Regions from separate parts of the Homo sapiens genome. Here all the other regions are reported to be linked to region 3. Evidence: microRNA targets listed by miRTarBase, many of them from high-throughput screens and not tested one by one. Region 3 holds a microRNA gene; each other region holds the end of a gene's coding sequence. Distances are from middle to middle.
Evidence for each region. Region 3 holds the annotated microRNA hsa-miR-6829-3p (UGCCUCCUCCGUGGCCUCAG, at 1,517-1,536, opposite strand). A microRNA usually pairs through its seed, bases 2 to 8, with sites in the 3' UTR of a target mRNA and lowers its output. Matches are read on the target gene's strand: a 7mer-m8 pairs with bases 2 to 8, a 7mer-A1 pairs with bases 2 to 7 and ends in A, and an 8mer does both.

Region 1: miRTarBase lists UBXN7 as a target of hsa-miR-6829-3p. The part of its 3' UTR that is shown has no 7-base or 8-base seed match.
Region 2: the mRNA of THY1 is a reported target of hsa-miR-6829-3p. Seed matches in the 3' UTR shown: 7mer-A1 at 1,503-1,509.
Region 4: miRTarBase lists CENPM as a target of hsa-miR-6829-3p. The part of its 3' UTR that is shown has no 7-base or 8-base seed match.

Annotation. Positions count from the first base shown.
Region 1 is chr3:196,354,056-196,357,055 of GRCh38, reverse strand. UBXN7 (UBX domain protein 7) reads left to right here. Exons shown (of 11, transcript NM_015562.2): 11 at 210-3,000. The coding sequence ends at 371. Among named protein-coding and RNA genes, the nearest start is that of TM4SF19-DYNLT2B, 17 kb to the right of the region's middle.
Region 2 is chr11:119,416,974-119,419,973 of GRCh38, reverse strand. THY1 (Thy-1 cell surface antigen) reads left to right here. Exons shown (of 4, transcript NM_006288.5): 4 at 454-3,000. The coding sequence ends at 566. The region is part of intron 2 of USP2-AS1 (USP2 antisense RNA 1); the gene reads right to left. Among named protein-coding and RNA genes, the nearest start is that of THY1, 4.7 kb to the left of the region's middle. RefSeq lists an enhancer at 1-323.
Region 3 is chr3:195,880,813-195,883,812 of GRCh38, forward strand. MIR6829 (microRNA 6829) reads right to left here and starts at 1,583; the gene lies at 1,517-1,583. It overlaps TNK2 (tyrosine kinase non receptor 2), which reads right to left. Exons shown (of 16, transcript NM_001382273.1): 5 at 2,345-2,497; 6 at 1,239-1,516. RefSeq lists an enhancer at 2,474-2,974.
Region 4 is chr22:41,936,272-41,939,271 of GRCh38, forward strand. CENPM (centromere protein M) reads right to left here. Exons shown (of 6, transcript NM_024053.5): 6 at 2,466-2,925. The coding sequence ends at 2,785. Among named protein-coding and RNA genes, the nearest start is that of CENPM, 9.4 kb to the right of the region's middle. RefSeq lists enhancers at 1-619, 1-240, 281-420, 461-520.

The DNA of each region.
Region 1 (3,000 bases), 470 kb from region 3:
GCTGTAAGTAATTGGGGTCAGATTTATCTCCCCGTCCAAAGGTTTATATTGGCCCTTCCCCAAGGGCAAGCTTTGGTTATATGAAAGAAGAACTTACATTTAATAGCTGATCTAATATGATTAAAAAGAGAATGTTTTCTATTTAATTCACTAATATGCTCTTTCCTCTTTTTCCGTCTAATGGCTTTGTCTTTCTCTTGTTTTTATAGGCTTTGGTGAAGCACGTGCAGTCTAAAGGATACCCAAATGAACGTTTTGAACTTCTCACCAACTTTCCTCGAAGGAAATTATCTCATCTGGACTATGATATTACATTGCAAGAGGCAGGCCTTTGTCCTCAAGAGACTGTCTTTGTACAGGAAAGAAATTAACACCATGGCTTGACCTCTCTCAGCTTACCCCTTTTTTCCCTTTTCCTGTGAGATACATGTCACTAAGTATGCATTTTGGCTCATAGGACCACAGAGCCAAAGTTGGGCAAGCAAGTCACCTTCCTTCTCTTATTTCTTGATCTCTCCTATAATCAGTCTCTTTCTCCCCCTTTGTTTCTTTCTCCTCTTCTGTTTTCTCGCTCCCCACTCCGTACCCTTCTGCCTCCCCCTCCCCCCACACTTTTCTTTCTTACCTAATCTGGTGACCAAACTGAAGTGTAAGGATAAGACCTCTCCTAGTACTAGCAGCAGGAATTGTGTGTTCCAGTAAGTGGTCTCTTGCACGGCACTTTTTTGGGATCAAATGTTAACGTTACTCCCCAGACTCTTCGGGCAAAGGAATGGCTAGATTCAGAGTAAGAACAACCCTCCCTTTTTTGTAAGTCCCCGTGTTTAGCAGGGAGAAGAAATTCTCTAACATGGGTTTGGTTTTGTTGTGTTCTTCATGTGGAAATGTCGCTTAACAAAATATCCAGGCTTTTGTTTACGTGGAAAAAGCATCCCTTGTAATGATTGCTCATCATACTTAAAAACCTTTTTCAAAGGATTTTCATGTTCCCAGCTATAAGGACTATTTCCATGACATGTGTTATTGGCAGAATGAGTGTTAAATATGGAGCATATAGCATGGGGTGACTTTCATTGTCCTAACCTGAGACAGTTTTCCTTATTACTCTGTATTGATCCTGCTAGTCCAAGAATGGACATGAAGTGAACCTATCGTGGTGACTGGGATAGGAAGGTGCTTGCTATTTTTGCCAGCACAGCATATTAGTTCCTTTGGAGCCCTCCATTGTCTGAGTCTGCAGTGATCTGTAGGAAGGCAGCTGGTCAATAATCATGTAGTACAATGGCTTGGAATTGTAACCACTATGGTTATTGATTGTCCTGTGTTGTTTCAGGCATACTTAGGTATGTCCCTGGGGAAAAAGAAAACCATTCAGCTGAGAGTTGCTAACCATGTTCTTTTGGTTAGAAATAATGGTTCATTTTTTGCCCCTGGTTGGAATAGTCTCTAAAAGGCTCTGGTGACTGAATTGAACATGAGTCCGCATGCTGTTTTCTTTCAAAAGGTATCAAAACGGAAAGCCTCTCTAAGGGGAAGACCTTTCAACTCCATTCAGAAGACAACATTTAGTAAGGAGGATGGCGGAGGTTACTAGTAATTTTCAGATGTCTTGGGCTTTTTCTGCCAACAAAACCCAAAATCAAATTAGAGTTGGTGAAAGCTTTCTTCAGTGTTTTTAGAAGAGGCCATCTTGAATCTGTAGAATACCATTTACACATCAACTTCACCCTATGCTCATTTCGTATTTTGAGCTTAAATGGAGTCCTCTGAAGGGGGGGTAGTCGTGATTCTGGTGGCAAAACTAGAACTTTTAACTTGTAAAATGAAAAATATTAAATGGACCTTTTTGTCAGTTGAGGATTTAGATTGATTCTTTTATCTGAGGAGCGTATGTTCCTCAGATGTTGCGTAGAGACCTTTAGGTTTTCATCTACTTTAAGATTGCTCTCTTGGCAATTAGGGGATTTGGGAAAAGAAGAAAAAAAGATGCCATGTGTTGCTAGTACACAGTTATAGGATATGGTTTCTAATGGTTGAATTTTGAGGAACTCTCCCTAAAGAATGAGTTTTATATCTCCTCAAGGAAATCATGGAAAAATCTGTTTATTCTTCAGTGAGTCCTTTTGAATTAATGTTCTTAAATTTTTTTCTAAGTCTGTGTAAGTGCTTATGTATAAGTATATAATTGTATAAATATTTATAAATATATTTATATAATTACGGTTTCATTTCTACCTTGAGTCAAAGTTCTGTCTTTAGATTGGTGACTGAGTAATACTTACACTTTGGTGTTTTTTCTTAGGTTCTTGAGGCTTACTTAACTAGCAGCTTCTGATTTATTGAGTGAAAGATGGTTTTCATGTTAATTCCTCAGTTGCATCTCTGAACTTGGATAACATACTTGCCGTTTGAAAAATAGAGCTGTATACTGTCAAAGGTGCACTGGAGGGTAAAACATTTGTTGGTAGTAGACAAGCTCAGAAATCCAAAAATTCAGGGAGGGCACAGGGTAAGAAGAGAGGTTTGCTCAGCTTTGTGCTCTGATGGCACCCATCTGTACTCCAGCAAAGTCATAGCTGAAGCCCAAATCGCTCAAACGTGTGAAGTCAATCATTTTTCCTATAGGGCTCTGTTTCCTTTTCTTTACCTTCTAGCTTCTCTTGATAAAACAGTTGGGAGAACTGCCAACGTGTTCATCAGTGAGAGGGTGTGGTTCTTTCCGATATGTTCAGCACGTGCATATTCATTTATGAGAAACCAAAGTAACTTCTTCAACTCGGGTTACTGTGGGATGATTAAGTAGATATAAAGTGATTTAAAAGACAGCATGGTACTTTCACTCAGCTTAACATGCAGCTGGGATGTCTACAATACAAGATGTGGTGGGTTTTATTTTATTTTATTTTGAGGCAGGAGTGTAATTATCTTAGGGTTGATATAAAGGCCCATGGGAAGAGTTACGGATTGTACATGGGAAGAATCCATAAGGAGTATTGCCTT
Region 2 (3,000 bases), not on the chromosome of region 3:
CTAGAGAGGAGAATAGCCCCATAACGCTCTCACCCTCTCCCAACTGCTGCCTGGTCAACTGGGGAACCATTGCCTTCGGTGTGAATGGGGTGAAGAGCTCAGGGCCAGACAGGCAGAGCAGTGTGGTTCCACCAGAACTGTGGGCAAGGCCTTTGGCCTCCCTAATCTTCCTTCTCCCAGCGGGAAAACAGGGATGACACCACCTCCCTCAGCCAGTTTTCTTGTCATGATGTTTAGTAAGGTTTTCATAAGATGATATGTGTGCAAGAGATCAGTAATCTGCAAATGGGAAAGATGGCTGGTTCTGTGAGACCGGGCTGTTCCTGGTCCCAGCTAAGACATTGCAGTACCCACCTCCCAAAGGGAGTACACCCTTGCTTTGGGCCTGTGCCTGCCTGAGTCCTGATCCGTCTTCCTTCCTACCCTGCCCCCGGCCCCCTTCTCTTTCTGCAGACAAACTGGTCAAGTGTGAGGGCATCAGCCTGCTGGCTCAGAACACCTCGTGGCTGCTGCTGCTCCTGCTCTCCCTCTCCCTCCTCCAGGCCACGGATTTCATGTCCCTGTGACTGGTGGGGCCCATGGAGGAGACAGGAAGCCTCAAGTTCCAGTGCAGAGATCCTACTTCTCTGAGTCAGCTGACCCCCTCCCCCCAATCCCTCAAACCTTGAGGAGAAGTGGGGACCCCACCCCTCATCAGGAGTTCCAGTGCTGCATGCGATTATCTACCCACGTCCACGCGGCCACCTCACCCTCTCCGCACACCTCTGGCTGTCTTTTTGTACTTTTTGTTCCAGAGCTGCTTCTGTCTGGTTTATTTAGGTTTTATCCTTCCTTTTCTTTGAGAGTTCGTGAAGAGGGAAGCCAGGATTGGGGACCTGATGGAGAGTGAGAGCATGTGAGGGGTAGTGGGATGGTGGGGTACCAGCCACTGGAGGGGTCATCCTTGCCCATCGGGACCAGAAACCTGGGAGAGACTTGGATGAGGAGTGGTTGGGCTGTGCCTGGGCCTAGCACGGACATGGTCTGTCCTGACAGCACTCCTCGGCAGGCATGGCTGGTGCCTGAAGACCCCAGATGTGAGGGCACCACCAAGAATTTGTGGCCTACCTTGTGAGGGAGAGAACTGAGCATCTCCAGCATTCTCAGCCACAACCAAAAAAAAATAAAAAGGGCAGCCCTCCTTACCACTGTGGAAGTCCCTCAGAGGCCTTGGGGCATGACCCAGTGAAGATGCAGGTTTGACCAGGAAAGCAGCGCTAGTGGAGGGTTGGAGAAGGAGGTAAAGGATGAGGGTTCATCATCCCTCCCTGCCTAAGGAAGCTAAAAGCATGGCCCTGCTGCCCCTCCCTGCCTCCACCCACAGTGGAGAGGGCTACAAAGGAGGACAAGACCCTCTCAGGCTGTCCCAAGCTCCCAAGAGCTTCCAGAGCTCTGACCCACAGCCTCCAAGTCAGGTGGGGTGGAGTCCCAGAGCTGCACAGGGTTTGGCCCAAGTTTCTAAGGGAGGCACTTCCTCCCCTCGCCCATCAGTGCCAGCCCCTGCTGGCTGGTGCCTGAGCCCCTCAGACAGCCCCCTGCCCCGCAGGCCTGCCTTCTCAGGGACTTCTGCGGGGCCTGAGGCAAGCCATGGAGTGAGACCCAGGAGCCGGACACTTCTCAGGAAATGGCTTTTCCCAACCCCCAGCCCCCACCCGGTGGTTCTTCCTGTTCTGTGACTGTGTATAGTGCCACCACAGCTTATGGCATCTCATTGAGGACAAAGAAAACTGCACAATAAAACCAAGCCTCTGGAATCTGTCCTCGTGTCCACCTGGCCTTCGCTCCTCCAGCAGTGCCTGCCTGCCCCCGCTTCGCTGGGGTCTCCACGGGTGAGGCTGGGGAACGCCACCTCTTCCTCTTCCCTGACTTCTCCCCAACCACTTAGTAGCAACGCTACCCCAGGGGCTAATGACTGCACACTGGGCTTCTTTTCAGAATGACCCTAACGAGACACATTTGCCCAAATAAACGAACATCCCATGTCTGCTGACTCACCTGGCTGGAACAACATGCTTACTGCCAACATGTGGGCCGAACCACATGGCCCTGGCTCTGGAATGCACAAGTGGCTTTGCGTGAATCTGCGCTAAGCTATGCAGTCTGCTTTTTCTTCTCAGCTCTGGTAGTTCTTCAGAAATGTACCCTCCAGGCACATCCACTATTGCGAGGGTGAGCACGAAGGGTGGGAGATGCCCATGTCCTCAAGGCATCACTTCCTAAATCCAAAAGCATCGGCAGGAGAAAGGACTGGGGACAAATACTGTCCCTTCGGGAGTAGGGAGGGAACACTGAGGCCCATCCCTGGCTCCTTCCCTAAAAGTAGAGTAAAATGGAAGCGAGCATCCTGGGATTGGGGGCAAGAGGGGGACCGCAGGGTAGCTGTGGGTTCCAACTGCTGTCAGAGTCAGAGAGGCAGCCCCAAGCCAGCCTCCCTGCTTTGCCAGGGAATTTGGGGGAGGAAGGTGACAGCTGCCCAGAGGCTGACTCATCTGATATTTAGCACTGGGTAGGATGATTGTTTCTGAGCATTTTTCTTAAAGGCCTCAGATCTAAATTATGCCACCGGCTCCCACTCTTGCTACCTCCCGTCAACTTCTCTGCCTTGCCTTCCACCCCTGTAGTTACCATACACAGAGGAGGAGGAGCTGTCCTTGTCCCAGGTTGGGAGGCTGACAACCCCTTAGCAAGATGCTGCCAGCCCAGAGCTCTCCAAGGGGAGGAACACCCCTGAGACTCAGGCCCCTCTCCTTCAGCCCTGCTTGGGCTGCAAGCGCCGTGCCAAGGAAAGGCATCTTGGTGAGAAGAGCTGCTGTGGGGGAAGGGAGATCAAATGCCAGAGAAATGTGGGGTGCCCCACCCTCAGGATAGTAAAAGAGTATGGAGGTATTTCTGGAAGGAAATGAGCGGCACTGTGTGAAGCCTCGCACCTGTGTGACACTTCCTATGGGGTCTTTGTCACAC
Region 3 (3,000 bases):
TGTAACACCCCCCCCAGCAATGCCCCTTGGAGAGGACACAGCATCTAACCCTGTAACACCCGCCCCCCAGCAATGCCCCTTGGAGAGGACACAGCATCTATCCCTGTAACACCCCCCCAGCAATGCCCCTTGGAGAGGACACAGCGTCTATCCCTGTAACACCCGCCCCCAGCGATGCCCCTTGGAGAGGACACAGTGTCTATCCCTCTAACACCACCCGCCAGCAATGCCCCTTGAAGAGGACACAGGATCTGTCCCTCTAACACCCCCCCAGCAGTGCCCCTTGGAGAGGACACAGCATCTATCCCTGTAACACCCCCCCAGCAGTGCCCCTTGGAGAGGACACAGCATCTATCCCTGTAACACCCCCCCAGCAATGCCCCTTGGAGAGGACACAGCGTCTATCCCTGTAACACCCGCCCCCAGCGATGCCCCTTGGAGAGGACACAGTGTCTATCCCTCTAACACCACCCGCCAGCAATGCCCCTTGAAGAGGACACAGGATCTGTCCCTCTAACACCCCCCCAGCAGTGCCCCTTGGAGAGGACACAGCATCTATCCCTGTAACACCCCCCCAGCAGTGCCCCTTGGAGAGGACACAGCATCTATCCCTGTAACACCCGCCCCCAGCGATGCCCCTTGGAGAGGACACAGGATCTGTCCCTCTAACACCCCCCCCAGCAACGCCCCTTGGAGAGGACACGGCATCTATCCCTGTAACACCCCCCCCAGCAATGCCCCTTGAAGAGGACACAGCATCTATCCCTGTAACACCCCCCCAGCGATGCCCCTTGAAGAGGACACAGCATCTATCCTTGTAACACCCCCCCCCCAGCAACGCCCTTTGGAGAGGACACAGCATTTATCCCTATAACACCCCCCCGCCAGCAATGCCCCTTGGAGAGGACACAGGATCTATCCCTGAAACACGACCCCCAACAATGCCCCTTGGAGAGGACACAGCATCTATCCCCGTATCACCCCACCCAGCAAAGCCCCTTGGAGAGTCCCACAGCATGTATCCCTGTGATTTCCAGCACCCAGACCCTGGCACGTGGGCCCTCAAGAATTCCTAGATGGATGGTGAGCGAATGGGTGCAAAGGAGGGCACCCCAGGCTTAGAACAGACAAGGGCAGGCCCAAGCAAAACCAGGGGCTGTGGTGGGTCCAGAAAGCCCCAGAAGCTTTGAGGCCTGGGTCTGCAGGGACTCTGTGAGCTGGCAGCACCTGCCCCTCACCAGGCGAAGGGCACCTTGCGATGTTCCTGCATGACGTAATGGTCGTCATTCTGAGGTAGTGCTCGCATCAGCCCAAAGTCCCCGATCTTGACCAGGTCGCGGGTAGCCAACAGCAGATTGCGGGCAGCCAGGTCACGGTGAATAAAGCGCTTGGACTCCAGGTAGCCCATGCCCTCAGCCACCTGCACAGCGTAGCGGCTCAGAGTCCCCAGGAGGAAGTGGCCCTGGTGCTTACGTAGCCGGTCCAACAACGATCCCAGAGGTGCCAGCTCTGTCACCTGAGGCCACGGAGGAGGCAGGAGGAATGAGCTGGAGGACCCTGCCCCTTCTCAGCAGCCCACGCTGGGCCCCCAGTCCCCTTCCTGAAGGCTTTCCAGAGCCAGGCTGCACGCACCTTCCTGGCCTGCTGTCTGGGGACCTCTAGGAGTCCTGCAGTTTCTCAGGCCTCTCCCTCGAGGCAATTTGGGAAACTGATGCCTAGAGAGAAGGAGCCCAAAGAGGCAGTGGCTAGAAATTCCAAAACTCAGCTGGACGTGGTGGCTCACGCCTGTAATCCCAGCACTTTGGGAGGCCGAGGTGGGTGGATCATTTGAGGTCAGGAGTTTGAGACCAGCCTGGCCAACATGGTGAAACCCCGTCTCTACTAAAAATACAAAAATTAGCCAGGCATGGTAGCGCACGGCTGTAATCCCAGCTACTTGGAAGCCTGAGGCAGGAATATCGCGTGAACCCAGGAGGCCGAGGTTGCAGTGAGCCTAGATCATGCCATTGCACTCCAGCCTGGGCGACAAAGTGAGACTCCATCTCAAAATAAATAGATAAATAAAACATAAATTCCCCAAATTAAACTCAGTGGCCAGCCCCTCCCATGGGAGTAACTCTCTTGACACTGAGCACCAGCAAAATCCAGAGACAGACCCGGACTGGACCGCAGCAGACACAGCCCGTACCAGGCTGGGCCCCTGTGGACCCCTTTACTCCATCAGGTTGGGGGACCAAAGTAGGATCTAGGGCGCCTCTGACCTTAGGATGGAGAGAGGAACCGAACCACACATATGGGACCGGAGCCCTCTCCCTGCCCGCCCCCTCCCGCCCGCAGTACTCACCATCTTCATGGGCGGCGTGAGCACCACCCCGTAGAGGCGGATGAGGTTTCGGTGGTCGAGCGAGTGCATGGCATTGACCTCCCGGATGAAGTCGTCCATGGCTTCTGGCTGGCTCAGGACATCGGGCTTCAGGCACTTCACAGCCACACTCACCTGCCCAGAGCGGGATTTGCAAGGACTCAGGACTTGCCAGGTCCCAGACACGCGGAGCCAACCTGCTCCACCCTCCAACTCGGCTCAACGATCCCTGCCTGTGAGCTCCTCATCTGGGTGGGTAAGCATGTCACCAGTGCCTGGGCTTACGTGCTCTGCGTGAGGCCTGGCTGGAGAAGGGCAGACGGCTGGCCCTCAGGAGCCATCGTCGGCCACACCTCCCCTTCCTGGGGGAATGCCGGGCTTAAATACCAACCAAAAAGTAAGAGATAACCAGTATGATGAGAGAATATTCAAATGTTATAAAATGGAATTTTTTTTTTTGAGACAGTCTCGCTCTTGTCGCCCAGGCTGGAATGCAGTGACGTGATCTCAGCTCACTGCAACCTCTGCCTCCCGGGTTCAAGTGATTCTCCTGCCTCAGCCTCCTGAGTAGCTGGGATTACAGGCAGGTGCCACCACGCCTGGCTAATTTTGTATTTTTAGTAGAGATGGGGTTTCTC
Region 4 (3,000 bases), not on the chromosome of region 3:
TCCCATGACAACGGTCTGTTTCATGAACTGTGAATTGGGGAAACATCATCTACCTCACAGGTCTGCTGTGTGAGAAGAGCTCTGTGAAGCATGACGTGCCTGCAAATGTCGGGTGACATGTGGGGCCTCGACCGGAATCTACGTGGCTGAAGTCCTCAGCGGAGCCCAAGGGACTGCCAGGAAGTCAGCCAGGTGTCTACAAACCCTTACTGAGCACTAGGGGTGGGGCCTGAGCTAAGTTCCAGAAGGAACCTACAGAAAGGGGCAGATAGGGCCGCATCCCCGACACCTACAAGGAGTTAGAAGGCGGCCCACCCCTCAGTGAAGGGCATGGGCCCAGCTGCGATGGTGACATCAAAGCAGAGAGGCCTTAGGCCGGCCGCGGTGACTCTCACACCTGTAATCCCAGCACTTTGGGAGGCCAAGGGTGGCAGATCACGTGAGGTCAGGAGTTTGAGACCAGCCTGGCCAACATGGCGAAACCTGTGTCTACTAAAAATACAAAAATTAGCTGGGCATGGTGGCGTGCACCTGTAATCTCAGCTGCTCGGGAGGCTGAGGCAGGAGAATCACTTGAACCAGGGAGCAGAGGCTGCAGTGAGTTGAGATCACGCCACTGCACTCCAGCCTGGGCGACAGAGCAAGACTCCACACCCCACCAACCAAAAAAAAAGAAAAAAGCAGACAGGCCCCGAGGTGCTGGTGCAGTGCTGCCCAGGGCTTCAACTGGGGTCCATCCTGAGGCCTGAGGCTGGTGGGCATGCCCTGGCACATGCAGGGTGAATGTGGGGAGGGCACTGTCATGTTCCAAGGGAGTCAGGACCTGGCTCTCTATGGGATTTCTAGAGTCCACTTCTGATGCCTCTACAATCTCCAATTAGACCCAAGGGAGAAGGAAAGCAACTGGCACTGTACAATCTCTCGCCATCAACCCCAAAATGAGACCTCCAGCCAGCTTTTCTCACTTCTTGCAAACTTCTGACAGTGGTGTAATTCCTAATTTGCACCAGTTTTTGAACTCCGCTGTGTGATTTCTTTTTTGGAGATAGAGTCTCGCTCCGCTGCCTGGGCTGAAGTGCAGTGGTACGATCTCAGCTCACTGCAACCTCCGCCTCCTGGGTTCAAGCAATTTTCCTGCCTCAGCCTCCCAAGTAGCTGGGACTATAGGCACAGACTGCCATGCCCGGCTAATTTTCTGTATTTTAGTGGAGACGGGGTTTCACCGTGTTGCCAGGCCAGCCACAAACTCCTGAGCTCAGGCAATCCGCCCGCCTCGGCTTTCCATGTGATTTCAAATAGTTACTGTTCACTGAGTGCCTACCTAGCAAGGTGCAAGGCATTAACACATGTTATGAACACAGCAACCTACTCGCAGGCATGGGGGGTCACACAGTCCCAGGCATGTCCATCGTCTCATTCAATCCTCCCAACGTGACAAGGTGAGCAGAACCTCATCTCCATTCACATCTGAGAAAACAAGCTCCAAGAGGCAACAACCAGGTTCTATAATAGCAGGGCCAGGATGTGGAGTCTGACTGGCATAACGAGTCCAAGCTCCCCTTACCCCGCCCCACTCCTTTTTTTTTCTTTGAGACAGAGTCTCGCTCTGTCGCCCAGGCTGGAGTGCAGTGGCGCGATCTCAGCTTACTGCAAGCTCCGCCTCCCAGGTTCATGCCGGTCTTCTGCCTCAGCCTCCCAAGTAGCTAGGACTACAGATGCCCGCCACCATGCCTGGCTAATTTGTTTGTATTTTTAGTAGAGGCAGAGTTTCACTGTTAGCCAGGATGGTCTCGATCTCCTGACCTTGTGATCTGCCCGCCTCGGCCTCCCAAAGTGCTGGAATTATAGGTGGGAACCACCGCGCCCAGCATTTTTTTTTTTTTTTTTTGAGACGGAGTCTCGCTCTGTTGCCCAGGCTGGAGTGCAGTGGTGTAATCTCGGTTCAACACCACCTCCGCCTCCCAGGTTCAAGTGATTCTCCTGCTTCAGCCTCCCGAGTAGTTGAGACTACAGGCCTGCATCACCATGCCTGGCTAATTTTTGTATTTTTAGTAGAGACAGGGTTTCACTATGTTGGCCAGGCTGGTCTCGCTTTTTTTTTTTTTTTTTTTTGAGGTGGAGTCTCACTGTGTTGCCCAGGCTGGAGTGCAGTGGCACAGTCTCAGCTCACTGCAACCTCCGCCTCCCGGGTTCAAGTGATTCTCCTGCCTCAGCCTCCTGAGTAGCTGGGACTACAGGCGCCCACCACCACATCTGGCTAATTTTTGTATTTTTGTAGAGACAGGGATACACCATGTTGGCCAGGATGGTCTCGAATTCCTGACTTCAAGTGATCCACCCACCTCGGCCTCCCAAAGTGCTGGGATTACAGGCGTGAGCCTCTGCACCTGGCCCACCCTGCCCTACTCTTAATTGTTCTGAGTCAGTTTCCTCATCTACAAAGTCAAAGTGGTGAATGAGACCAGTGATTTTTAAACTTTTTTTAGCCACAGACCTTTTGTTCAAAGGAAACCTTAAATGGAGATGTAACACGCCAGCTGCTTAAAGACACAGGCTCTGCAAGAGTGAGTGTGGGAGTGGGAGGGGGCTACAGTCTCGCCAGCTGGGCCCCCTCGCTGCTTCTGCCCAGCTCTCCCTGCTGCAGCACTGGCACTGCAGGGAACCTTCCCAGCCACGGCGGGCTGAGCCTGGGCCTGTCAAGCCCTGACTGGACATCCTCAACAGAGAATGTTTATGGAGTCAGCACGAAGCCATGAGAAGGGGCAGCCCAGGGGCCAGCCACCCTCACAGGTCCTCCAGGGAGGGGCCCTCAGAGCTTCTCAGCAGGGACAGCAGGTTCAGAGCTGAGACACCGGGCACGTGGCCAGCACAGATCTGCAGCACGCGCACCAGGCGCTGCGCCATGGTGGCCCTAAAGCCTTCCACCTGCGGGGAGAGCAGAGAACAGCAGTGAGATAGAATGCTGGCCCTGCTCCCTTACCCAGAGCAGCTGCAGGGGCT